7 linked regions of the Homo sapiens genome follow. The protein of the gene in region 4 purifies or fractionates together with the protein of the main gene of each other region. This does not show direct contact. Each region holds a gene or a part of one and is shown on either strand. Other genes may lie near its edges. The genes, in order: ESF1, FNDC3A, EPB41L3, AP3S1, BTK, SPG7 and EPB41L1.

Region 1 (3,500 bases), on a different chromosome or scaffold from region 4:
TCAACTGTCAGTCATTATACCATTTTCATGATTTTTGAATATCATTTTTTTATTAAATTGAATTTTTTAAAAGTTAGTTTTGCTCTAAACAATATTCCTAAAGTCACAGAAGTGATAGGGTAATTACATTGTTTTCTAAGATGTTGACACAGTACATAACTATTAATATTTTAGAAGTTTGAGTATCATCAAAAATCTTCTCACTTATGACAATGGTACACATACCACACTTTGGGTTATATAATAATAAAGTGTTGCATAAGAGACTTAAAGAGGTCTTCCATTTCAATGTTTTTAACAATATCAACTGCATTCAGAGTATTTATTCATTCAATAAGTATCTGCAGCCGAGCACAGCTGCTCACGCCTGTAATCCCATCATATTAGGAGGCCAAGATGGGAGGATCTTGAGCCCAGGAGTTTGAGACAAGCCTGGGCAACATGGCAAAACTCTTTGTCTCTACAAAAATACAAAAATTAGCTAGGCATGGTGGGGTGCACCTGTGGTCCCAGTGACTCGGAAGGCTGAGGTGGGAGAATCACCTGGGCCCAGGAAGTTGCGGCTGCAGTGAGCTGTGATTGCACCACTGCACTCCAGCCTGGGCAGCAGAGCGAGACCCTGTCTCCAAAAATAAAAATAAAAAACCCCAAAAAGTATCTGCTTAGAGCCCACAATGTACACAGCCTTGTGCAAGATAATGTGGGGTTACACAAATATAAATGTCTCTATTCCTAGACAGTATTGCTCTAGTAGTGACTGTAAACATTACTACTTATCCAGCTACTTCAAACAAAAAACAAAAAAAAACCAAAAAAACTGCTTTACCATTTTCCCCCAATTATAAACATAATGAATGATCATTACAAACCAAAAAAAGTTAGGAAAATATGGTTAATAAATAAAACAAAGGTGACTAGCAGTAATTTTTCATTCAAAGATAACTGGTTATTTTAGTATACAACCATATCCCTAAATTTCTTTTCTTTAATTTAAATACTAATTTGTTTAAAATAACTGGTCATATCGTTATTTTGGAACCTATTTTTAAAACTTCATAGATCACAGATGTTTGCATATATTTAATTAATCTCTTAATGATTTGTTACCATTTTAATTTCTATTTTCATTTTTTGAGACAAGGTCTTGCTCTGTTGCCCAGGCTGGAGTGCAGTGGCACGATCTTGGCTCACTGCAACCTCTACCTCCTGGGTTCAAGTGATTCTCGTGCCTCAGCCTCCCAAGTAGCTGGGATTACAGGTGTGCACCACTATGCCCAGCTAATTTTTGTATTTTTAGTAGAGACCGGGTTTTGCCATGTTGGCTAGGCTGGTCTCAAACTCCTGACCTCAAGCAATCCACCCGCCTCGGTCTCCCAAAGTGCTGGGATTATAAAGGTGAGCCACTGTGCCCAGCCAGTTACCGTTTTATTTTAAAAATAATGCTGCAATGCACATTCTTTGCACACATCCAATTATTTATGTAAAATAGATTCTGAGGAGTGCAAGTGCTGGGCATGAACATTTCATGATGACAAATATCACACTGCAAGTCCTCACATCACCTTTACTTCACAGCACTTAAAAAGGCCCTTGCACACAGTAATTGCTGTAATAACTGATGAATGGATAATGAACAGAAGATTATATATGGAGCCGTGTAATCCTTATTTATGAGTAATGCCTTTCCTAGACTGTGGAACCAACAAAATTACTGCAAGCAATGTGGTGGGGTAGAAGGAGTCAGAAGACTTGAGTTGCAGTTCCAGGTCTGCATGTCCTTACATAAGTCACTTTAATCTTGTTCGCTGATACAGTCTTATTGCTCAAGGTAACTAAGAAAATTAAATGAGAAAAGATATGTAAAAAAGTCTGTAAAATCAATCTAAAGGATTATATAGCTATGTTATATTAATTCAGTGCCCCAAATGAAGTGGATGCTAGACTAACTTACCTCACTAATTCAGTGTCAAATCAACTTTGCTGCCGGTCCCACTCCAATCTTATTCTTCAATTTTAGTAACCGGATTCCTATCCTTTCTTCCCACACCTCAAGAGGTCTGCTGCCTGGTTCCACTACAAATGTAAAATGGGATACCACCACTGACTCCCTAGTCCTTGCTATCCAGAATTCACTCCACTGCCTGATACCTTCTACCCTCACAGTGTGATCTCTGCTTATCAAGACCTCTTGGCCTATCAAAACCTCTTGGCCTATCAAGAACTCTTGGGCTATCAAGACCTCTTGGCCTATCAAGACCTCTCGGCCTATCAAGACCCCTCCTTGGATCCTGTAATCACAGGTCTGGCTCATGTGAACTACTACTGGTTTTCAGTTACATCTTCAACTATCAGCAACATCAACACTCAAAATTGCTTGCTGCTGGAGGTGACAAAAAATTTTAATTAGTAAACACGTAATGCAAACTAGAGCCAGCTGTCTCTCACCTAGTTCCAAACAATCATTTCTCGCTGCTACTCATTTTGGCCCTTCAAGACCTTATTATCTAATCAAACGGGACTACTGACCTCTTCTGAACATGCCCAATCACATCTTTGCTCAAAAAGTTCTTTCCATGTAGCACACTCTGGTCCTCAAACTTAAATTTTTCCACACCCCAAAGTAGTGCGTCCCCTATGAATTTTTCTGATTACCACATCTTGAGTGACTTCTTCCTCCAGATTTCCATGGCTTTCTGCTAAACATCTTTTACGGCACTTACTATTATTGCATTTTGTATTATGGTTCTGACTTTCTTCTACTTTAGATCTATATTGTCCAATATGGTAGCCAGTAGTCACATGTGGTAACGGAGCACTTGAAATGCGTTTTGTCTAACTTGACATTAATATGAAAATAGTATTAGTATGAAATGAGTAGAAAATGGGATGTAAAATATACATTGACTTTTATATTGATTACATATTGAAATAATTTTGATATATTGGGTTACATAAAATATATTATTTAAAATAATTTTACCTGTTTCATCTTACTTTTTAATGTGGTTACTAGAAAATCCAAAATTATGTATTTCTACTAGACAATGTTGCTTTAGACAGGGGCCACTGCACAAAGTTTAGCAGGCTGTTATCCGCACAGGGGCATTTATAAAAGGACAAGAAGGGCTAAAATCAAGGCCATCCTACACTCACCAAGCCATGCACTCTGGAGGGGGCTGTGTCTGCTCAGGGGCAAAAAATCTGTTGCTTCAAAGGCGCCATCTCTTCACCAAAGTGTGACCCCTGGGAGCTCTGTGTGTCCAGAGAGCATGCCTTTTTCTAATTTGCATAAAGGCATCATATAAGCTAGCGACAGCCCTGAGATGGGTGACGACGCCTTACTCATATTCTGCCTGCCACATACTAGTGGCAAAGCAACTGAACAAATTAATGAATGAGTACTCAACTCTACTTACCCTCTTATTTTATTTTTGAGACGGAGTCCTACTTACCCTATTTATTTTATTTTACTTTTGAGACAGAGTCTCGCTCTGTCAGCC
Region 2 (3,500 bases), on a different chromosome or scaffold from region 4:
TTTTATAATTTTCTTAATATTTTGGTCTTATTTCAGATAATTATTCAGTGGTCTCTTTTTATATCTTTATTCTTACCTTTCTGTCTTCCCACTGTTGTGGTTTTGCTTGTCTTTAATATATACTTTCAAGTTTTCTGTGTAACCTGTGGTCTTCCATCAAGTTCCTTTGTGGGTGTCATCTTTCAATGTTTCCAATCACTTATCACCCATTACCAGTCCTTGGGCTATTTTTTCCTCCAAGATTGAGAACTACACCTGGGAGATGTCATGTGCTTGCAGGGTGATGCAATGTTATTAAAGTGGGGATACAAACATAGTGTGATGTCTTCCTTCCTTCAAGTAGTTTACAAATTAGTTGGGGGTACTAGACTAATAGTATCATTAGCAAAAATTATAATATGGTATTATTAAGTTGTGTGACACCAACTGGAATTTAAAGGGAAGTGAAGCCAGTGAGAGCTAGAACAATCCTGGAAGGCATTTGGAGGGAGTCAGAGGAAACTTAGAAATGATTTAGATAACAAAAGGAAAGGCATTCCAAAAGAGATTCACAGGCAGAGTTGGAAGTAGTAGTAGAATAAGTAGTCCAAGAGCATCCAAGGACAGAAATTGGGACGAAGAAAGAAAGAAAGTTAGGTCGAGATGTTAGCTTAAGCACCAGGGCATCAGAAGAGGAAAATAGGCAGAGCTGGACAAGACAGTTTGTATCATTAGGAACCTATCACTGAAAGAACTATACCTCAGCTTTGACATATTAATAGCTTAAGCTTTATGTATAATGGATAGCTTATATGTGTTTGTTTGTATGGCTTAGGTCAGGGGTCGGCCAACTTTTTGTGTAGAGTGCTAGATAATTAAATATTTTAGGTTTTGCAGGCCATTTACAGTCTCGGTTGAATGTTCTTGTTTGTTTGTTAGTTTTTTATAATCTTTTAAAAACGTAAAAATTTTTACATTGTTGTCTCAAGAGCCAAACAAAAACAAGCCATCTGTGGACTGGATTTGGCCAGGGGACCTAGTTTGCTGACTGCTAGGTAATAATTGGCAAAGTAATTGTCCATATAGCACATACTGTGAAATTTCTTGCATCATCTTGTCTATATGGTGGTTTGGGCGTTTTATGACTATCATGTATATATTTTTCCTTATGTTATCCTAAAAAAAAAGTATGTAGAAATAAGTGCTTCTGTAATTGTTATTTTGTGGCCAGACTTCTAACAAGAGCCTAGAATAGGTCTCAGAATTAGGAAGTGAAAGACGAAAAGCCTTTGAGTCAGGCCTTACTACAGTGAAAATAGCTACACAGTGGCTTGATTTAGAATTTGTATAAGGTTAGGTGTATCAACTGCCTGTGCTGGTTTTACATTTTTAAAAACAGCTGGCAGGTTAAAAACCTTGTCTAGGATGCTGGTGGTCTGTAAGTGACAACAGAGGAGCAGGCAGTAGGGATCTTTGTTTTTAGAAGTAGTCTAGGATGAGTTAATAAAGGGACAAGCAGTTGGACATTCTGCAGTACTCCAGAAAGAATCACTCTGTTATGGAACAGTCTAATAATTGATATTTACATTGATGAGCTTGAGTCATCAAGAAAAGATTATATCATGTGCACATTAAGGCACGGAAGAAAGACCTAGAGATCTCTTTACAAATAATTAAGATTTTTTTAAGATAAGTTATGGTGATTTAAAGGATATAAGTATCAGCTGTTTTGAAAAGTAATTTACATGAAACATCTCTGAAGTTTCTAAATTTATAGATATCTATTTCTAAGGCAGTTCTGTTTCCTTCAGTATACTGTGGTTCATGTGCCATTACCAGGTGAATAGTGATGCCTCACGCTGTGGCTGCACAAATCAATTGGCTGGGGCAACTGTATTTTTTGTGGCATCAAGAGAGCAAGAATACATCATGAGAGCATTTTTTCATTAAGCAGGCATCAGTACATTCCATATATCAGGGTTAGTATTAGGTGCTGGAAAAAGTACAGATGTATAAGATGGGAAGCAACCTGGACAGAATCAGTGATGCTTCTTTCTTCCTGTTAAAAACATTAAAACCAACCAAACAAAATCATGAAACTTAACTTTTGTACTTTAATTTATTATTAGCATTTTTCATACTTAGTACATACAGTACCGTAATTTTAAGGCAATATAAAGCTTTTGATTTAAATAACAGCCTTCATAAATTGCTACTTAATACAATTTTTACTTTTTAAATTTTAGTTTAAGGAGAAATTCATGCCCTCCCTCTTTTTTTGTGAATGCTTGAAACAGCTTCACCATGCCAGCTGTTTCCATTTGCTAAACAAGAGGTAAATTAAAGTACCTTGGATGGTGACTCAAAAGTCTAGTTCTTAGTTCTAACTTCACCACTTATTACCTATATGATTTTGGGTTAGTTTCTTGCAATCTTGGTTTTCTAAGCATTAAAATAGAGAATAATATCTATCCTGTTTTCCTCAAAGATATTGTGAGAACCCACAGAGATGTTGGAAACTATAAAAGCATTAAAATACATACCATAAAAGTGCTTACATTAATGCTACTATATTGGAAGCAATGCAGCCTTTTTTTTTTTTTAAGACCAGAGTTCAAGCTTTATCCTCCAAAGTTCTGTAAACATAGTATGTTTCCAGTAAACATTCAGTTGAGCTCATTGAATTTTAGAACCTATACTTGCTTATTTTTAAAATCCTATACAAACCTGCCAGATATGTGGTGGTATTCTCATTTTACAGATGAACTATACTTCTGATTGACTTCCATATCTCTTTCTCCTTCACTTCTTGAGATCTCTTATGTGCTAGTTGCTAGAAATACAAAGTGCAATGTATACTTTGAAGTAAGCCTTGGTGTAAAAGTTACCTAAGTTTGGTAAATTAGATTGTGTATGTTAATCAGCCTCTATCAGAAATGCTGGGGGAAAAAAAAGTGTTGTATCTGTTTTCTTTCCTCAGAATCCATATTTTAATATATATTTGAACTTTTAAAAACTTAAATGATTTCGCTTCACTACTTCTTCAGTGAGGGATTACTTTAATTGGTTTATGTATATTCTAAACCGACAGACACATAATTTGGGAGGCAAAAAAATCTTACTTCTCTAGGGGTTCTAAACAGATATTTAAGTACACTTTAAATCACAGTTTAGACTTTTATTAGAAAGTAATTACGTGCTTTGCTTTATAGAAGTATATGCCATATACAGCAACTACTTTTGTTGAGCCATAACTTGAAGGATTAGTCATTTCATTTACTTTAAAATCAGTTTTTCTTAAGATTTGCTTAAATAAAAAGTGAAAATTCATAATTTGCGATTTTATGTTTAAATTTTCTAAATTTTTTTTGTTTTCTTAAGACAGACATTCTCAATTATGTCTTTGTTCTTATGACTTGATTTTTTTCCATGTAATATTTTCATTTGTAATATATACCTAAAAAAAATTTTTAGCATAGTACCTTCATAGTTTATGAAGTACCTTTTTGTTTCTTTAGTAA
Region 3 (3,500 bases), on a different chromosome or scaffold from region 4:
CACTCGCCAGGATGTCTAAAGCCAGCAGCAAGTGCTTATAACCAGAAACACTGACGAAAAATATAAATTAGCTTTCATTTCTCCCACTGAAATCTCTGATGCCTGCCCCTGCCCCTGGTGCATGCACTTGAACCTGCGCTGCTGCTTCAGGACATCCGCAAAACAAACGGAAGGCAGGATAAAGTGCAATTAACAAAACAAAAACCAAAGCATTGCAGCGCATTCACGTTGGTTTTGGCTGCTTTCTTAGACTCAACTGGTGAGACATAATGCTTTTAGATATTTAATTCTATTAAAATTTCTCAATATGATCGCCTTTCGAATAGTGAAGTACATTCTTGAGATGCAACTAAAGGCATGTGACAGATATGCCAAGCAGACACAAAGGACAATAAGTGAAGACACCTTTGAGATGTTGAAGGCAAAGCCAGCTGGATGCAACCACACACTCACGCCCAAAAAAAGGGTAAGGAAAGGCACATGGGCACATTCAGAAACACCAAGGACGAAAACAAATGGCCACCTGAACCCAGCTTTGAGAAGTAGAAGTAACCCCTCCTATGAATTCTGTTGGTTTTCGCGCAGACTCTAATAAACTGAAGATTTCAGAGCCATCCATGAGCTTTTCCCCAGAAGACTGCTTAGTCTGAGTGAACAAAGAGAGGCAGAGTCAAGCACAAAAGAGAGACACAAACTCAGGCACATAAACATTCACAGCTTGTTAGACAAAATCGTAGGCAGAGGAGACAGGGAGGAGGAAGAACGAAGGAATCTCAGAGTTTGGAAACGAAAAGAATGGGAAATAAAATAGAAAACCAGGTGCTCTTGTTTGGTAAAGCAGAGACGGTTATTAGGATCAGGGTGGCGCCGATTTAAGCAGATATATATATTTTTTCCCCTTCATTGCAAGCCACAGCAGCACTATCACATCTTGGGAACAGGGAGCTGGAAATAAAATGGAAAGTGTTTTAATGCTGACTTTGCACTGCGGTATTGATTTAACCATGAAAAAAAATTAAGAAGCTGGGTTGGCTGCTCTCAACATAAAGCCAAGCAGCAAGAGAAACGGAAAGGTTTGGGGTGGAAGGGGACTGCCTCAAAAACTGTCATGCTGGAATTGCAAACTGTGGCCCCAATGAGTGACACTGGTTACCACTACTCGGGAGGCGGATGACTCAGTAACGTAATGGGCAGTAGCAACGGTAAAGGCTGGTTCCTGGGAATATCTCCATTCGGACAGGCTCTTCCTTCGGGGACCAAAGAGGCCCACTTTTAAGACCTCACTCTCGGGCACTTGCTCTGTTTTGCTGAAGCGTCTGCCTTCCAGGCCAGGGAGGACGGCCACATCCTTCTCCAGCTGTGGAGCCTTCTTGAGGTCATCTTCTTCAGGACTCTGCCGGCGAGACTCGGCCTCCTTGATGGGGGCCAGGGATTCGGACAATTTCCGCTGTGTCGTCTGGACCTCTGGTCCTCTCTTGGATTTCTCATCAGCGAGGGTTTCCAGGACCTCATATTCTGCCAGGCCGGGAATGATCTTCATGGACTCTGGTATTTCTTTCTCCATTTTCTGAAGTGCTTCTGTAGTGGAGGGCTGCTCCACTTTCTCACCCTCTTTAGCTTTCCCAGTCATAGTAACAATTCTCCCGGAGACAGTGTCATAGGATTTTCCTAGAGTGTATATTTTCTGTTTGCTGTCTTCTTTCAGTTGCATTTCTCGAGCCAATTCTTCGAAGCTTTGCATTTTAATAGTGCCAGATTTTAACATGTCAGCTGGGAGATCACCAGTTTTACTGCTCACGGTCACCACCTTGTAAGTCACAATCTTTTTCAAATCACCATCAACTACCTCAGTTGGTATTCTGTCTACAATAACCCAATCCTCTGTGCCCTATATTTGAAATATAAAAGCTAAATTAGAAATTCTGATGGTATCTCATTTCTAAAATAAGAATCCTTTAAGAAAATCAGGGCAACTGCTACATGCAGGTCTGTGATGGGACCATACAGTGCTCATGTTATTATCTAATAATTATGGCTGCAATCTCTTCTCCTCTGAAATGATAAACTATAAACTTCAGCTCAGAATACATTCGGTAGGTAGAGTTGCAACTTCTTTAAACTGGAACATACTTTGCAGTAAATTTTTTGAAGAACAGATTTGCTCTTATGATAAATTTTGGATCATTTTATATTTCAAGATTAAATAACATTATTGATGTTGCTCTATAAGTTACTTAGCTTTACATGTGTGGGGATAAAAGTTTTCCTCGTTAAATATAATCTATACTTCATATACTGTTATCACAGAGAGCTTCCCAACATTCTACAAATTTATGTAAATATTTTCCATATTTGTAAATTGTATTTCTTTATACAGGGAAATGAATCCATAATAGCACTTATTATTCAATAAATATTGAGTGTGACTGTGTTCAAGGCATTGTAATGAAATATTTCCCACAAATAGGACACTATTAGAGCCTCTTACAGTGATCTGTACAGTGTTCGAGTCTTACATTTTTTTTTTAAAAGATGGGGTCTCCCTATGTTGCCCAGGTCGGCCTCGAACCCCTGGGCTCAAGTGATCCTCCCATCTCAGCCTCCCCAGGAGCTGGGACTACAGGCACATGCCATTGTGCCCGCTCCAATCTTATTTACAACTGAAGTTCACTGTCTCAGGAGTTTCTCTCTCACTTTCTTTAGTGTTAGTTCCAATAAGGCAAAAGAAAGGAAAGCTAAGAAACTTTTGTATTCAGGGAGGCATAATACAATATGACCAGGTAGGTTAATAGCTTCACAGATTACAGAGGGAAGAGATATCAAACCAGGAGCAGGTGAGTGCCCTGGTTTACATTTTAAACTAGAATGTTTTCTAGAAACTTTTCTGTTTTTTACAGCCTGAAAACTTAAATCTAGAAATACGTGTGCCTTTAAAAATACCACTACAGATTGATCTACATGTTGTTGCTAGATTAAATGAAATGAATTGAAAGAATAACCTCTAGGGTTGATGGGACAGTTTTCTGGAAAATTATTTGACGAGAAGTAACCACAGAGTCAGCAGAGTCTCCTTCCTGCATTTTCTTTATCACACTTGGCTAGTGGGGAAACCAATAAGAATTCAGAACTTTCAAAATCAGTCAACTTCATCTAAATTAGCACGACTCTACAGGTAAAAACAGGCAGTAAAACAACATTTCAGCAAGATTATTATCAGAAAGTAAGTCAATGACAACATACAGAGAAAAATCAGCTTGGATTAGAAGCCATGAAGAAATGATGCATAACTGATAACTAAAATATTAAGAAAATTCAATTTTCCCTTCCCCAGAATCTAAATCAAAATTATGTACCTACCTTGGTTTTAAACAAGATAAATGTTAAAGGGAAAATAAAAACTAAGAGCATTTTAATGACACTGAAGTCTGAAGACCAATTTCTTCTGGAAAATCCTTTATGTTTGGTTTTTACCTGAGACTCAAGGAATGGAGCGCTTCCTT
Region 4 (3,500 bases):
GGCGGAAATTAGATCATGGGGCATTTGTAAGTGCTTACTAGATTTAACTCCATACGTCACAGTAAGTTACACAGCTTAAGACTGATTATCAACCAGAAAAAAAAGAAGAATGACACTTCTTAAGTTTTGGATAGATTTACCGTCAAGATCTCTTCCAAAATTACATTGTTTTGACATAAATGCAAGAAAACTGAGCTAAGATACTAAACTCTTTCATGAAATACTTTTATTTATAATGACTGGAATTTTAGTATTTTAGAAATAATAATTTAGGAATCATTCCAAACATATTTTTCTAAATATAGTTTAGCTATTTCATAGTTAAGTTTACAATAATGAATTCACCTTCTTAAAAGACCCCTAAACACTTACATAATTTACAATCAAGGCTATATGTAACCAAAATTAAACTAACATCCATCCCAACAGAATATGGGAAAATGGCATCTCTCCCTCCCTCCCTCCCTCCCTCCCTCCCTCCCTTCCTTCCTTCCTTCCCTCCCTCCCTCCCTTCATCCTCTCTTTCTCTGTCTCTCTCTCTCTCTTTCTTTTTGAGACAGAGTTTCACTCTGTCACCCAGGCTGGAGTGCAATGGTGCTATCTCAGCTCACTGCAGCCTCTGCCTCCTGGCTTCAAGCAATTCTCCTGCCTCAGCCACCAAAGTAGCTGCAATTACAGGCGCACACCACCACACCTGGCTGATTTTTGTACTTTTAGTAGAGATGGGGTTTCACCATGTTGCCCAGGCTGGTCTCGAACTCCTGAGCTCAGGAGATCTGCACGCCTAGGCCTCCCAAAATGCTAGGATTACAGGCGTGAGCCACTGCGCCTGGCCAGCATCTATTTCTTACACAGTAAAAATAATACTAAACTTATAAGTTCTGTAGAAACAACTTCCCAAGGTATATACTACTTCTATGTCTTCTAATAGCAAAAGGAGAAATGATCTTTGACAAGAATAAAAATTTCCTACTATGCTAGATACTCTTCTAGAGAAGATGTTTAATTTAAAAATATCTACATGCAATTTAAAGATTCTGAGAGTATATTTACAGACTATGACTGCAATTGTTCCCTGAAAGAGGCAAAAAGAACACAAATAGGAGGCTTTACTCCATTCTGAATCAGCGATTTAGTGATTATCTTAAAACTTTTGCTTTACTTTAAAAGGACAGCAAACTTCTGAAGAATATAAGTTTCAAAAAGGCCAGTAATGCTATTAAAAGCAAGCAAAATATTAATGCGGCAAGTACATATTTTGCCTTTAAAAATATAATCTTATCTTTAAGCTATAGTATAATACTGACAAAAATTCCTGTACAGAATGTAATACATCATATAAAACCACAGGACTGAGAAATCCTGTTAGTCCAAATAACTCATTTTATAGAGGAGAAAACTGAGGCCTGAGAATTTAAGTAACCTGTCCAAGGAAATCAGCTAGTTAGTGACAAAACTAGGATTAAACTAGATGTGAGGCCTCATCTCTGCTGCAATATTTGCTTTCTATTTTTTGTAAGGTTAAAAAAGAACAATCACAATTTCCAGCCACAATTTCTAATTCAAATAGCACCCTAGTAAGATTAATCAAGTTCTTACATGCAGTGCACTGTGCTGGGTGGTAAGTTTCCTAGGAGATAAGAAATCAAGAGGCTAGGATGAGAGGAAGTGATAGTAATGTCAAAGACAACTAAAATTAAATAAGTACAAGTAAAATTCAAAAACAGAAGCAGGTACACTTGTCTCAATTATTAAATTAGAAGCCTTGAGTTAACAGCAAAATTTGTAAGTATGTATTGGACATTTAAGGACAGCATGATATAATCTTTCAGGAAACCCAAGTTAAGTGTTCCACATGATAAAAAGTACCTTATGACCATGGATTCCCTGTTATCCAGAGTATTTCTCATCCATCATACACAGTAAAATACAGAAAATTCTAAGTTTCTCTGACTGATTTATGTTTGAGAACAAACCATTTTCATGGAAGTTATTAGTTTAAAAGTATTTGTTTGTAATATTTGGCAATATTCTTATTCATTTTAAAAATAGAAAAATTGATTAGCTGAATTAGGTATATTTGAAAAACAGACTTCAGTCTTGTAACAGTAAAATAAAGAATGTAATCTAATTTTTATGAACATTCACAAAAAGGAATACTCTGTAGTCATTAAAAAGAATAAGCTTGTCCTAGATGTGTTTCTATGCAAAGCTTTTGAAAATACTGAGAACCAGCAACATGCAAATGAGCATACAAAGTGTGATCTCATAAATAAAAATTTTAAGGTTGTAGGTTAGTCAACACATATAACATACTTTATATGTTAGTCAATACAAACTATTTTCTAGAAGGATACACAAGAAATTGGGTAGAAGGACTAAGGTTGAGAGATTCTTATTTTACATTTTATACTTCCCTGTAATGTTGGAATTTTTACGATTTAATATATTACCTTTATATAAAATTCCCTTCCAAAATTTTTAAGAGGAAAAAAGATTGCATATCTTTTAAAAATAATTCTTTAAGTTAGATTTATAGCTAACATAGGTGGCAATTAATTCACCTAATCCAATTAATCAAAAGTAGAAAACTTTTACCATAAACTGATTAAACAGTATATATTTTAATCACATAGTCAAAACTTAGAAATGTCTATGAAATGCTTTACTTACAATCCTCCTTCTAGGAAATTACAAACATTTTCATCTCTCTTAGATACCAAATGGAAAGTCTCCCTGATGATTTGCTGTTGTGTATCTTCACTCTGAGGAAGAATAATTCATATATATTAGGATGGAGTGTATAGGTTTAATAGCATTTTAAGAATTTTTAAAATCAAAGGTAGCAATATCTGTCTGGGAAATCCATCTAAGAGAGGGGTCCTTGGAGAAGTGACTTAAATTATACCTTACAGAAGCAAAACCCAGTATTTTTTGATGAAAAAGAAAAAAAACCCAATTATTTATATTTACCACTATAATAAAAGTAACACATTTCTAAGTTTCAAAAACCAACAAGAAAAAATATTAGATGAATTACATACACTGGTAAAAGGGAAACTAGATATTAACTAGTCAAAGCTGATTATCTTACAAATGAGTAAACTGAATCAGAAAGGTAAAGATATAAATAGTGTAGCTAATCTATATTTGAATGGAGGAAAGAAATAGAACTATGGAGCTTCCAATTAAGTTTAACCTTTACTAAATATAGACTGAGGTAAGAGTCCATCCATCTTACTCATCTTTATATAAGCCGATCTAAAGCCAAGGATTGGGTCAATAAACATTTATTAACCTGGACCAAGCAATTCATATTCCAGTAAGAGTCAGCGTCCTGGCCGGGCACAGTGGCTCATGCCTGTAATCCCAGCACTCTGAGAGGCCGAGATGGGTGGATCACAAGGTCAGGAGATCGAGACCATCCTGGCCAACACAGTGAAACCCCGTCTCTACTAAAAATACAAAAATAGCTGGGTGTGGTGGCACGTGCCTGTAAT
Region 5 (3,500 bases), on a different chromosome or scaffold from region 4:
GCCTTGGCCTCCCAAAGTGCTGGGATTACAGGCGTGAGCCACCACGCCCCACCTGAAATGCTATTTTTCTTGGCTGTCAAATTAACTAATATTTAAAATATCTAGTGTTGGGCTGGGCACAGTGGCTCACGCCTGTAATCCCAGCACTTTGGGAGGCCGAGGTGGGAGGATCACTTGAGGTCAGGAGTTTGAGATCAGCCTGACCAATCTGGTGAAACCCCATCTCTACTAAAAATACAAAAATTAGCAGGGTGTGGTGGTGGGCGCCTGTAGTCCCAGCTACTCAGGAGGCTGGGGCAGGAGAATCACTTGAACCGGAGGCAGAGGTTACAGTGAGCGGAGATCGCACCACTGCACTCCAGCCTGGGCGACACAGCGAGACTCCATCTCAGAAAATAATAATAATAATAAAAATAACAAAATATCTAGTGTTGGAAAAAATGTACAGAAACAGGCACTCTCATACATAGCTTGTAGGTGTGTATGAAATTCAATTCCACTTCTAGAAAATGAAATAAAAAGATAAAAATAACCAAAGTGCACAGATTTTCTTAAAGAGAAGAACAAAATTTTACTTCTAGGAAATTATCATAAGGAAAAGAATAAAAAAAGTACAGAAAGATGTATGCAAGATTGTTCCTCTCAACATGGTTTATACTATCAAGTACTTGTAGACAAACCGAATGTGTAATAATGGGAGATTAAACAAATTACAATACATCCATAATAGGGAATACCATACAGTCATTAAAATCATGTTATTAAAGAATATCTATTGTCATGGGGAAAAGTTTCCCACATATCGTTACATTGAAAAAGTACGTTACAAAGCAAGATGTGTACTATGAGTCTATGTTTTAAATATATGACATATATATAAGTGTATGCGTATGTGTTCTCAGTGAAGAAAAACATCTGTAAGTCTATGTACACCAATATGTTGATAGTTGTTTTAACTGGGTAACAGGATTATGCATCATTTTAATCTTTTTGTATTTTTTATATATTCCAGAGTTTCTGTAATAAATACGCAATTCTCCTGTGATCAAGAAAATACTGAAAATGGTCAGACCCAGTGGGTGGCTCACGCCTGTAATCTTTGCACTTTGGGAGGCCGAGACAGGCGGATCACTTGAGGCCAGGAGTTCAAGACCAGCCTGGCCAACATGGTGAAACCCCGTCTCTACTAAAAAAATACGAAAAATTAGCCAGGCATGGTGGTGCACACCTGTAATCCCAGCTACTTGGGAGGCTGAGGCATGAGAATTGCTTGAACCCGGGAGGTGAAGGTTGCAGTGAGCCAAGATGGCACCAGTGCATTCCAGCCTGGGCAACAGAGCGAGACTCTGTCTAAAAAAAGAAAAAAAAAAGAAAAAAAGAAAATACTGAAATTGATATATATTTTTTAAAAGTGAACTCAAAAATCAGTAGGTTTTATGTCTCTCGCTCCGGAAAGTGAGAAGAGAATAAATAGTAAGGTATTAAAGGATATCATGTGACTCAGAGCCCTAGGATTATGACATTCAGACTTACTTAAGCCTCTAAATCTGATCCTGAGAGAACTGAGGGAATAAAATCAATGATCTCTGACCAGTTTGAAAACTAGATATAGCATCATTTAAAAGTTTGTGTTAACAAATTTTCCATGTTTAGTGAGATGTTCTGAATATGAAGGAAAGAAGCTAAGATTCTTTATAACCAATATGGTAGAGTGAAGAATTTTTAAAGGAAACTTGACCGTGTTCCACGTTGCACAGCATCACCAGTCTATTTACAGAGAATTTAAATGTTGCAAATTTCTTCAAATCTGCTGTTCCCCATCTCAGACATTGGTCTCTTCTTACCGGAATCTGTCTTTCTGGAGGAGGATTTTTTTCAGGAACCACTGTTTCAACACAAGTGATCTTCTCAACATCTATTGAACCCTTCTTACTGCCTCTTCTCTGAGAAGTAGAATGAGGAAGAAAATGGAGAAAGATTAAGAGGGATTAAGCAACCAGATGATTAGATTTTGTTATCTAATCATTCAACAAAGTGAGGTGGCACCAGGACCTGTCATGTGGGGGAAGAAAAAAAAATCCTTCCAGATCTATAAATCTATGACTACCAAATGGAGGGCAAATACCATGGAAGAGTGAATGACTGTATGTACCTTCCTCATAGGAAGTAAGGAAGCAATTTCCAACTCTTCGATTTCATTTTCAACAATCATTTAATGAGTGCTCATCAATTCCAAGATTCCATGGTAATATTTTCCTTGTGGCTTCTTAGGACCTTTGACTTTCCGGCTTTAGCTAGTTATAGGCTAGGAAATATTTTGCTGAATTTGAAAGAACTTAGGTCCATTCTACTCCCCTCCTCCTACCAACGAAAATTTACCTCTTCCCCAAGAAAGATCTAAGGCCAAGTCCTTGATATCTTGAAACTCAGTTTTCATAGTCGAGAAACTTACCCCACGTTCAAAGTCATACTCATAGTAGGAGAGTTTGTGCACGGTCAAGAGAAACAGGCGCTTCTTGAAGTTTAGAGGTGATGTTTTCTTTTTCTGTTGGGATCGCTTCAGAAAGATGCTCTCCAGAATCACTGCGGCCATAGCTTCTTCTTTCTGGAGTTCACCTGTGTGCTGTTGATAATGAAAGTTCCTGAGGACCCAGGACATTAATCCTCATCCCTCTTGGTTCCCCCTCAGCCTAGCTACCTAGTTTCAAATGGAACAAAAATGTGCACAGCTCACAAAATAATTTCTTCCTACCAACCTCCTCCCACAGCCCCCAGCTCTGTCAGGTTTCAGGTATAATGGATGCACACTGAATTGGGGGGGGATTGGTTCGATGTTGTGAGCTCATATAAACTGAGTTCTTGTATAAGGCAATGGAATGCTCTAGATGTTAAATGGCACGCACCTGTGTGCTTGGTAAGGTGTAGAGGTAGCTTTACACTATTCACCTTTATATGATATGTGTAGAATCTGTGAAAAGCAAAAGTATCTGTGCAGCTGTTGATCTTGATATACCCAGAAGGGATAATGCAGGTGCCAGAACTCCACTGAGGCAGATATTGGACTTTCAGTTCCCAATTTCCTAGACGGTGAATATAATTTTTCAAACATTGTCCCACTGGGGTCTGTAACCAAGGGAACTAATAAGGATATGGAGGCTGCACCTGCAGTTCTGGACACACACTAACTGCTGCCCAACTGATTTTGCCCACACCCACTGACTGAGCTACAAAGGATAGAAGATTTGTTCTAAAGTTGAAAACATAATTTTTTTTGGTGGGTTTTGGTGGGGGGGGGGTAGTTGTTGTTTTCTGACCTTTTCCCCATTTAGCTTAAATTAGTTCTTTTAGACAGCATCATGCAAAAGTGATGCAACTGTCTTACTGATATAGATGCCACCTCTGTTCATTTATGAAACACAACTTATTTAGCCTCCCCAAACCTACAATACTCCAGAAGGATTCAATTTAGGTAACTGAAACACAGAAAGACAAATAAAGTT
Region 6 (3,500 bases), on a different chromosome or scaffold from region 4:
TTCCGTTTCCTGTAGCCATTACCAACAATTAACCAATTAAATGTGTCTAGAGTTGGCATATAGGTTAAGTTTTTGTCCAATTAAATTATCTAAGAAGTCTTGCTTAGCTCCAACTCTCTTATGACCACAACTTATCTTTTACAAAATACTTAATAAATTCAAAGCTACGTCTACACCAGATTCACCCCATGGCATGCACTGGAACAGAAGGAGTCATGCAGGGAAAAGCGCTCTGAAACCTCCAGGGCCCGCGCCGCTGCTCCTCACCAGAAGTGACCTCGTTGAAGGACAGTGCTTCCGAGGCCCGTCCTCCCAGGGCCATGCACATCCGCTCAAACAGCTGCTCCTTGGTGAAGAGGTGCTGGTCTCTGGGGAGCATCTGAGCAAAGCCCAGGGCGGCGTTTGTCCGAGGGGTTATGGAGACCTGGCACAAGGTCAAGATGACCCAGGTCAGTAGGCAGGATGCGTGGGCTTTGAGGAGGAAGGTGTGGGACTAAGAGGTCTCCGTCATTAAAGCGTCTCAAAGCAGGAAGGCAAATGTGCAGCATCCTCTACAACAACAGGGGATCCTAACACTCTAGATGGCCAGCCCAGAGACAGCAGCGTTCCCACCACAGGTGCCTGTTCACACACTGCCGGGAAGTGTCTTCTCATACATGACTAGACAGGCAGGGAGTCAAGAAGACAAGGCCCGTAGAAGACAGCTGAGAGGCGAAGGACAAGTTTCACCCCCGATGGCCGCTGCGCTGACCCCTCACACCAGCGACAGCTACTGAGGGTTCAGAGCAATGAGAACCCCACGATGCTGAGGCAGCAGAGGCTGTCCTCACCTCTGCTGCTCCCCCACAGCCCCACATCAGGTGTGCAAGGAGGTGGCGCGGGGCAACGAGCTAACTCGACAACACGGAACCGCTGAGTGGGAGACGGACGGAGACGGGGCAGGGGCTGGCCCAGCTGCTGCTTCTGAGAATTGTGGCGGCGAGATGGCCACATCCAAGTGCTCTGAGAATCCCGAGGACGCTTAATTTAAAATCTAAAACTAGGCTGGGCGGGGTCGCTCACATCTGTGATCTCGGTACTTTGGGAGTTAGAGGTGGGCAGATTGCATGAGCCCAGGAGTTCGAGACTAGCCTGGGCAACATAACGAGACCCCTTCGCTACAAAAAATATAAAAATCACTCGAGCCACCAGTGGGGCATGCCTGTAGTCCCAGCTATGCAGGAGGCTGAGGTAGGAGGATCGTGTGAGCCCGGAAGGTCGAGGCTGCAGTGAGCTGTGATCGCACCACTGGACTCCGGTCTGGGCAACAGAGAGAGAGACCCTGTCTCAAAACAAAAAGAAGCTCTAAATAACGGCTGCAGTGATGATTGCATTAATGACCAAAACCATAACAGCCAATTCACAACCTTTTCCTGGCAGGACACTGAGCCTTGGGAAAGAGACTCACTTTTTCATTGTGACTATCTGACTTTTGCCCATCAAATACAGTAAAAATTCTTTTTTTTTCCCTTTGAGAGACAGTCTTGCTCTGTCACCCAGGCTGGAGTACAGTGGCACAGTCTTGGCTCACTGCAGACTCTGCCTCCCGGGTTTAAGCGATTCTTGTGCCTCTACCTCTCAAGTGGCTAGGGTTACAGGTACGCACCACCACGCCCAGCTAATTCTTTTGTATTTTTGGTAGAGATGGGGTTTCACCAGGTTGGCCAGGCTGGTCTCGAACTCCTGACCTCAAGTGATCTGCCCGCCTTGGCCTCCCAAAGTCCCTGCATTAATTTTGATTTCTTGACATACCGTGTTAAAACGTCGTGTTCACTGCTGAGTTTTTTAGTGTCCCATAAATGGGACCCCCAGCTGAGTGTCCACTCGCCCCACAGTGGGCCTAGCTCTGGTCCCATGACTGTGGTGCACATCGCCAAGGAGCAGCACGGATCTGGTCCCCAAACGCTGCCTCAGCCCTGCTGAGACCCTGGGATGGGCAGGACGCTCTCTGATTAACACGCAACTTTGCTACAACTCACACCTGAGAACCAATCACGGAGACCAGCACTGACAAACCAAGCTGGCAACTGCTACAGCGTATGCATTGTTTGCAGTGAACCCTGAGGTAGGAACACAGCACTGCCGCCTTCTCAGGTGAGCCTCAAACCTGCACGGCTTCCTGGGGCTCCACTGTAAAGACGGCACCTGCGTTCCGAGTAGAGACCTCCTCTTGGCAGCACTCGGACTCCCGGTGGTGGAGCCACGTCTTAGAGAAGCTGTAACATCACCATTTGGTAAGAATAAATGTCCATCGAGTTCACAGCTGCCTACAAGAGTAGTTTTTTGTTTGTTTGTTTGAAGTAGAGACAGTTTTGCCCTGTTGGCCAGGCTGGTCTTGAACTCCTGACCTCAGGTGATCCACCATGCCCAGCCTAGAATAGTATTTTTTAAATGTACACTCAACTCACTTCTTTCCAATGTTAGGAGTCATTTGGGGTGGACAGGCAAAGGCAGCGAAACCCCATTGCATGGTGTAACCTTCCACGAGTCACCCCAGTAGCAGCACCATGCTCCGATGTGACACAGCCCACTCCTGCCTCCCACGTCCGAGTTCCCGCCCATCAGTCGCCACCCACCCTGCTCCATGGATCATGACAGTGGCAGGCTTTCCTCTCACATGACCTACAGACACAGGCGGGACTCCCCAGTCAGCTACAGACACAGGCGGGACTCCCCAGTCAGCTACAGACACAGGCGGGACTCCCCACCCACCTTTGGCCAAGGCCCGTGGAGCCGGCACCTGCCAAGACCCACCTTCATCACGGCCTCCGTGTGCTCCAGCATCCAGCCCACCAAGGCGTGGCCCGACTCATGAAACGCAACCACTTTCTGTTCTTCCTTGGACAGGATCTTGCTCTTTTTGGCAGTCCCTGAAAGAATGCCGGGGTATGAGTTGGGCGCGGTGGCTCACGCCTGTAATCCCAGCGCTGTGGGAGGCCAAGGCGGGCGGATGACCTGAGGACAGGAGTTCGAGACCAGCCCGACCAATATGGTGAAACCCCGTCCCTACTAAAAATAGAAAAATTAGCTAGGTGTGATGGCGGGCGCCTGCAGTCCCAGCTACTTGGGAGGCTGAGGCAAGAGAATCACTTGAACCTGAGAGACGGAGGTTACAGTAGGGCAAGATCATGCCACTGCACTCCAGGCTGGGCGACAGAGCAAGACTCCGTCTCAAAAAACAAACAAAAAAGAATGACGGGGGGGTGAGCTGAGACCCCGGCCTCTCCCTGGCTGGGCCCTGCTCCTGCCCCGTGTGGTCAAAGCAAGCCTCTCTCTGCACATCTGCCTCTTGGAGCTGCAGCTGCGGCTCTGGACACCCCAACTCAAAACGACACTCTTCAGGTCAAAGGGCTGTTGAAGGAGGTCGTGATTTCTTCTTTTATAAATGTTGCAATCATCGAAATAGCTCCTGCTGCTTTTAGGAACAAGTGCAACCCTCTGAGGAGTGTCTCCTCCTGCCC
Region 7 (2,780 bases), on a different chromosome or scaffold from region 4:
CACGTCCTGGGGCCTGTATGCTTACTGTTCCCTCTCCTAGAATGTGCACCAAAGTTCCTCGCCTTTGTTGATTGATCCTTCTTTTCATTCAGCTCACAGATCGCCTCCTCAGGGAGGCCTTACCTGGCCACTGTATTTAAAGTGGTCTCCTTCAGTGACCCTCCTTCCCTTCTCCCGGTGTATTTCCTTCCTAGTGCTGAGTGCTCTGTAACGGACTGTTTGCCTGTGTTGGCATCTGTTTCCTCCACTAGCCTGTGGGTTCATGAAGGGCAGGGACTTTTGTCTTGTTTGTGTTGTGCCTGGAGAGTCACCCAAGGCCTGGACCACCTTGAGTTCCAAATATTTGTTGCATAAACATGTTCTAAGTTGGGATGTCTCCACTTCAGTTTTAGCCCCTCCCACAGTGCCAACTTGTACCAGTGGCCAAAGTCAGAGAGAGACAGTGAGAGAGAGAGAGAGAGAGAGAGAGAGAGAGAGAGAGAGGAGAGGTGCCAAGGAAGTATGGTTCAGCATCAAACACATTTATTTCACTTATATTGAGTATACAAGAACAGAGAGCACACGCATACAGCACGGAGCACTGAGGTGGGGGAGCATGGGGACGAGAAAGGAGAGAAGGGTGTGAGTAAAAAGGAACAGGACAGCATCGCAATTGGTTGTTAAGGTGCTTTTGAAAAAAAAAATTATTTCGAGTGATGTTGCTCATGCAGTTTCAGGCCAGTCTTGGAATGTGCTTGCAGGATTCAAAAACTGAAACAGGTCCTGGTACTTCCTGTACCCTCAGATGGAAAAGATCCAGAGAAAACAAAATAAGAGAAAATGAAGACCCATGAGATAGCAAAGTAGAAAAAGACCCTGGAGAGCATCTGGTTCTTTCTGCTTATTTTGCAAGTCGGGAAACTGAGGCCCAAGAGGGGGAATGGGGATAGCCTGATGTCACATGGTGAGTTAGGAGCTGAGCCAGGATGGTCACCCAGAACTCCTAACCGCCCTCAGGGACTTTTTCCACTATGCTACATGGCCTCCTGGGTGGAGAGGTGGCACAGAGAGGATGAGAAACAAAAAAGAGAAAAGGAAAAGTAGGTTGAAGACAGACAAGACAAACGTCTCTATTCTCTACAAAGAGAAGGATGGGGAGGAAACAGTGCCCTAGATTCTAGCTTTGCAGGTCCCCTCCTCCCTCGTGGCACTGCCTGCATCTCCGTAGAAGGGAGGTCACAGCATCCGCGGGATGGTGATTTCCCCAAACCCTGGTGGCCCATAAACTCCACAAGCTAAGCCTGGTCACTTCACCCCTGCCCCAAAGCCAGGTGCAAAATCCACAACAAGGATCCTCCCTCTGAGGTGTGTTCAGTGTGCTCAGGACTCCTGGTTCCTGCAAAGATGAGTTCCTAGACCGAAGTGGCCCAGAGAGGATGGAGCCACCACTCCAGCTCTTGACCCAGAAAGAGGGGGAACTCTCAAGAAGGGCAGGAAGAAGGTTCTGTGGCTTTTCCACCAGGATTGTAGAAAGAACCTGGTGTATGGAAAGTGTGCTGCTACACTCAGGGGGAGTTGGAGTGGACCCACCGGCCTGCACCAGGGGGAATGCCACTGATTCTGCTGCCCCGCTGAACTTCCCATTTGCCCAGAGAAGCAAATGCTATTCTGATTTCCTGCCCTGCCTCAGGCCAGCACCAGCTAAGCAGCTAAGGTGTATGTCATCACTGACAAGCCAAAGGGACGCATCTAACCTGGGCCGCCTGGGGGCATCCCTGGGCTATGCCCCGATAGGTTGGCGAGAGTGGGGAGATGCTCTCAGATGGGCCAGCCATGGTTGAAATATAAAGCTGGCTCAGGTGGCTCCTCAGGTTCCGCCCTCCCCTCCCACCTTCTTCAGCCTGAGAATAGTCCCTGGCACAAGCAGGTAATCAGTAAATACTTGTGGAATGAATTTATTAACTGGTTTAGAAGGAGGACTGGGAGGTAAAATGGAACTGAGAAATTCGCAGTGCAGTGGGACATTTTCCCTCATCAAGGGGCACTTTCTGAGCTCAGAGAAGTAGCTTGTGGCAGACAAGCCTGAGGAAGCCCACGTGTGGCAGAGAGCAATGCCAAGCTTGTGATGGGAGCTTCTTGAAGGGTTCCTGTGGTCTTGGGGTAATTTCTGGGCACAAGCTCAGAGTTCAGCTGTTGACTGAGAGGGAGGTCTCCAAGCCAAGGTCTTATGCAGAGCTGGAGCCTATGAGCAACATCACCCGTCAGTCTCAGCTTTGTCCTGGGACAGGGGAGGGCTTTGCAAATGCAGTTTTGATCTTTCAGGGTCTGCCCCATGAAGCCTCCTTACCATGGCTACTTTGGCCTGAGAAGAAGAAATGATTCAGAACAAGGAAGAGAGTAGAGGAAAAGGCTTAGCTGGGAATTTTTAGACAGTCAGGTTAAAGCCACCATCTTCTACAATGGCTGAGAGCACCACCTCCCTTTGGATATGGAGTTGGTTATTACAATGGGGTCAGGGAAGGGCAGAATGTGGCAAAAAAAAAAAAAAGAGAGAAAGAGAGAGAAGACTGAAAACCAAGGCAAGCCCCGTAGGGAGATAAGGACTAAGCCAGGGACCTCTACTGTGGCAACTTCAGCAGCAGAGTCCCAGACTGGGACCCAGTACCTGAGCACAGACCAGGCCCTGACTGTTACTACCAGGGGGGCAGGGAGAAGGTGTCTTGAACTGGCATTTTGGGGACGACATCTGTGTTGCTTCTTTCTTGCCAAACCCACACCTCTCCATTAGGGCCCCCCACCCC

Evidence for each region.
Region 1: the proteins of AP3S1 (region 4) and ESF1 fractionate together in Homo sapiens (co-fractionation; one large-scale study listed by BioGRID). This does not show direct contact.
Region 2: the proteins of AP3S1 (region 4) and FNDC3A purify together in Homo sapiens (affinity purification with mass spectrometry; one large-scale study listed by BioGRID and IntAct). This does not show direct contact.
Region 3: the proteins of AP3S1 (region 4) and EPB41L3 purify together in Homo sapiens (affinity purification with mass spectrometry; 2 studies listed by BioGRID and IntAct, with this or other methods). This does not show direct contact.
Region 5: the proteins of AP3S1 (region 4) and BTK purify together in Homo sapiens (co-immunoprecipitation; one large-scale study listed by IntAct). This does not show direct contact.
Region 6: the proteins of AP3S1 (region 4) and SPG7 purify together in Homo sapiens (affinity purification with mass spectrometry; one large-scale study listed by BioGRID and IntAct). This does not show direct contact.
Region 7: the proteins of AP3S1 (region 4) and EPB41L1 purify together in Homo sapiens (co-immunoprecipitation; one large-scale study listed by IntAct). This does not show direct contact.

What each region holds. Positions count from the first base shown.
Region 1 is NC_000020.11:13,778,420-13,781,919, forward strand, and holds part of ESF1 (ESF1 homolog), read right to left. Parts: intron 1-3,500. UniProt on the Homo sapiens protein: May constitute a novel regulatory system for basal transcription. Negatively regulates ABT1.
Region 2 is NC_000013.11:48,978,912-48,982,411, forward strand, and holds part of FNDC3A (fibronectin type-III domain-containing protein 3A), read left to right. Parts: intron 1-3,500. UniProt on the Homo sapiens protein: Mediates spermatid-Sertoli adhesion during spermatogenesis.
Region 3 is NC_000018.10:5,397,498-5,400,997, forward strand, and holds part of EPB41L3 (band 4.1-like protein 3), read right to left. Parts: coding exon of another isoform or gene 3,472-3,500; intron 647-3,471; coding exon 524-646; intron 1-523. UniProt on the Homo sapiens protein: Tumor suppressor that inhibits cell proliferation and promotes apoptosis. Modulates the activity of protein arginine N-methyltransferases, including PRMT3 and PRMT5.
Region 4 is NC_000005.10:115,865,935-115,869,434, reverse strand, and holds part of AP3S1 (AP-3 complex subunit sigma-1), read right to left. Parts: intron 2,766-3,500; coding exon 2,674-2,765; intron 1-2,673. UniProt on the Homo sapiens protein: Part of the AP-3 complex, an adaptor-related complex which is not clathrin-associated. The complex is associated with the Golgi region as well as more peripheral structures.
Region 5 is NC_000023.11:101,372,692-101,376,191, forward strand, and holds part of BTK (tyrosine-protein kinase BTK), read right to left. Parts: intron 2,624-3,500; coding exon of another isoform or gene 2,594-2,623; coding exon 2,453-2,593; intron 1,944-2,452; coding exon 1,845-1,943; intron 1-1,844. UniProt on the Homo sapiens protein: Non-receptor tyrosine kinase indispensable for B lymphocyte development, differentiation and signaling. Binding of antigen to the B-cell antigen receptor (BCR) triggers signaling that ultimately leads to B-cell activation.
Region 6 is NC_000016.10:89,549,903-89,553,402, reverse strand, and holds part of SPG7 (mitochondrial inner membrane m-AAA protease component paraplegin isoform 1 precursor), read right to left. Parts: intron 2,910-3,500; coding exon 2,794-2,909; intron 425-2,793; coding exon 268-424; intron 1-267. UniProt on the Homo sapiens protein: Catalytic component of the m-AAA protease, a protease that plays a key role in proteostasis of inner mitochondrial membrane proteins, and which is essential for axonal and neuron development.
Region 7 is NC_000020.11:36,230,520-36,233,299, reverse strand, and holds the end of EPB41L1 (band 4.1-like protein 1), read right to left. Parts: 3' UTR 501-2,780; downstream 1-500. UniProt on the Homo sapiens protein: May function to confer stability and plasticity to neuronal membrane via multiple interactions, including the spectrin-actin-based cytoskeleton, integral membrane channels and membrane-associated guanylate kinases.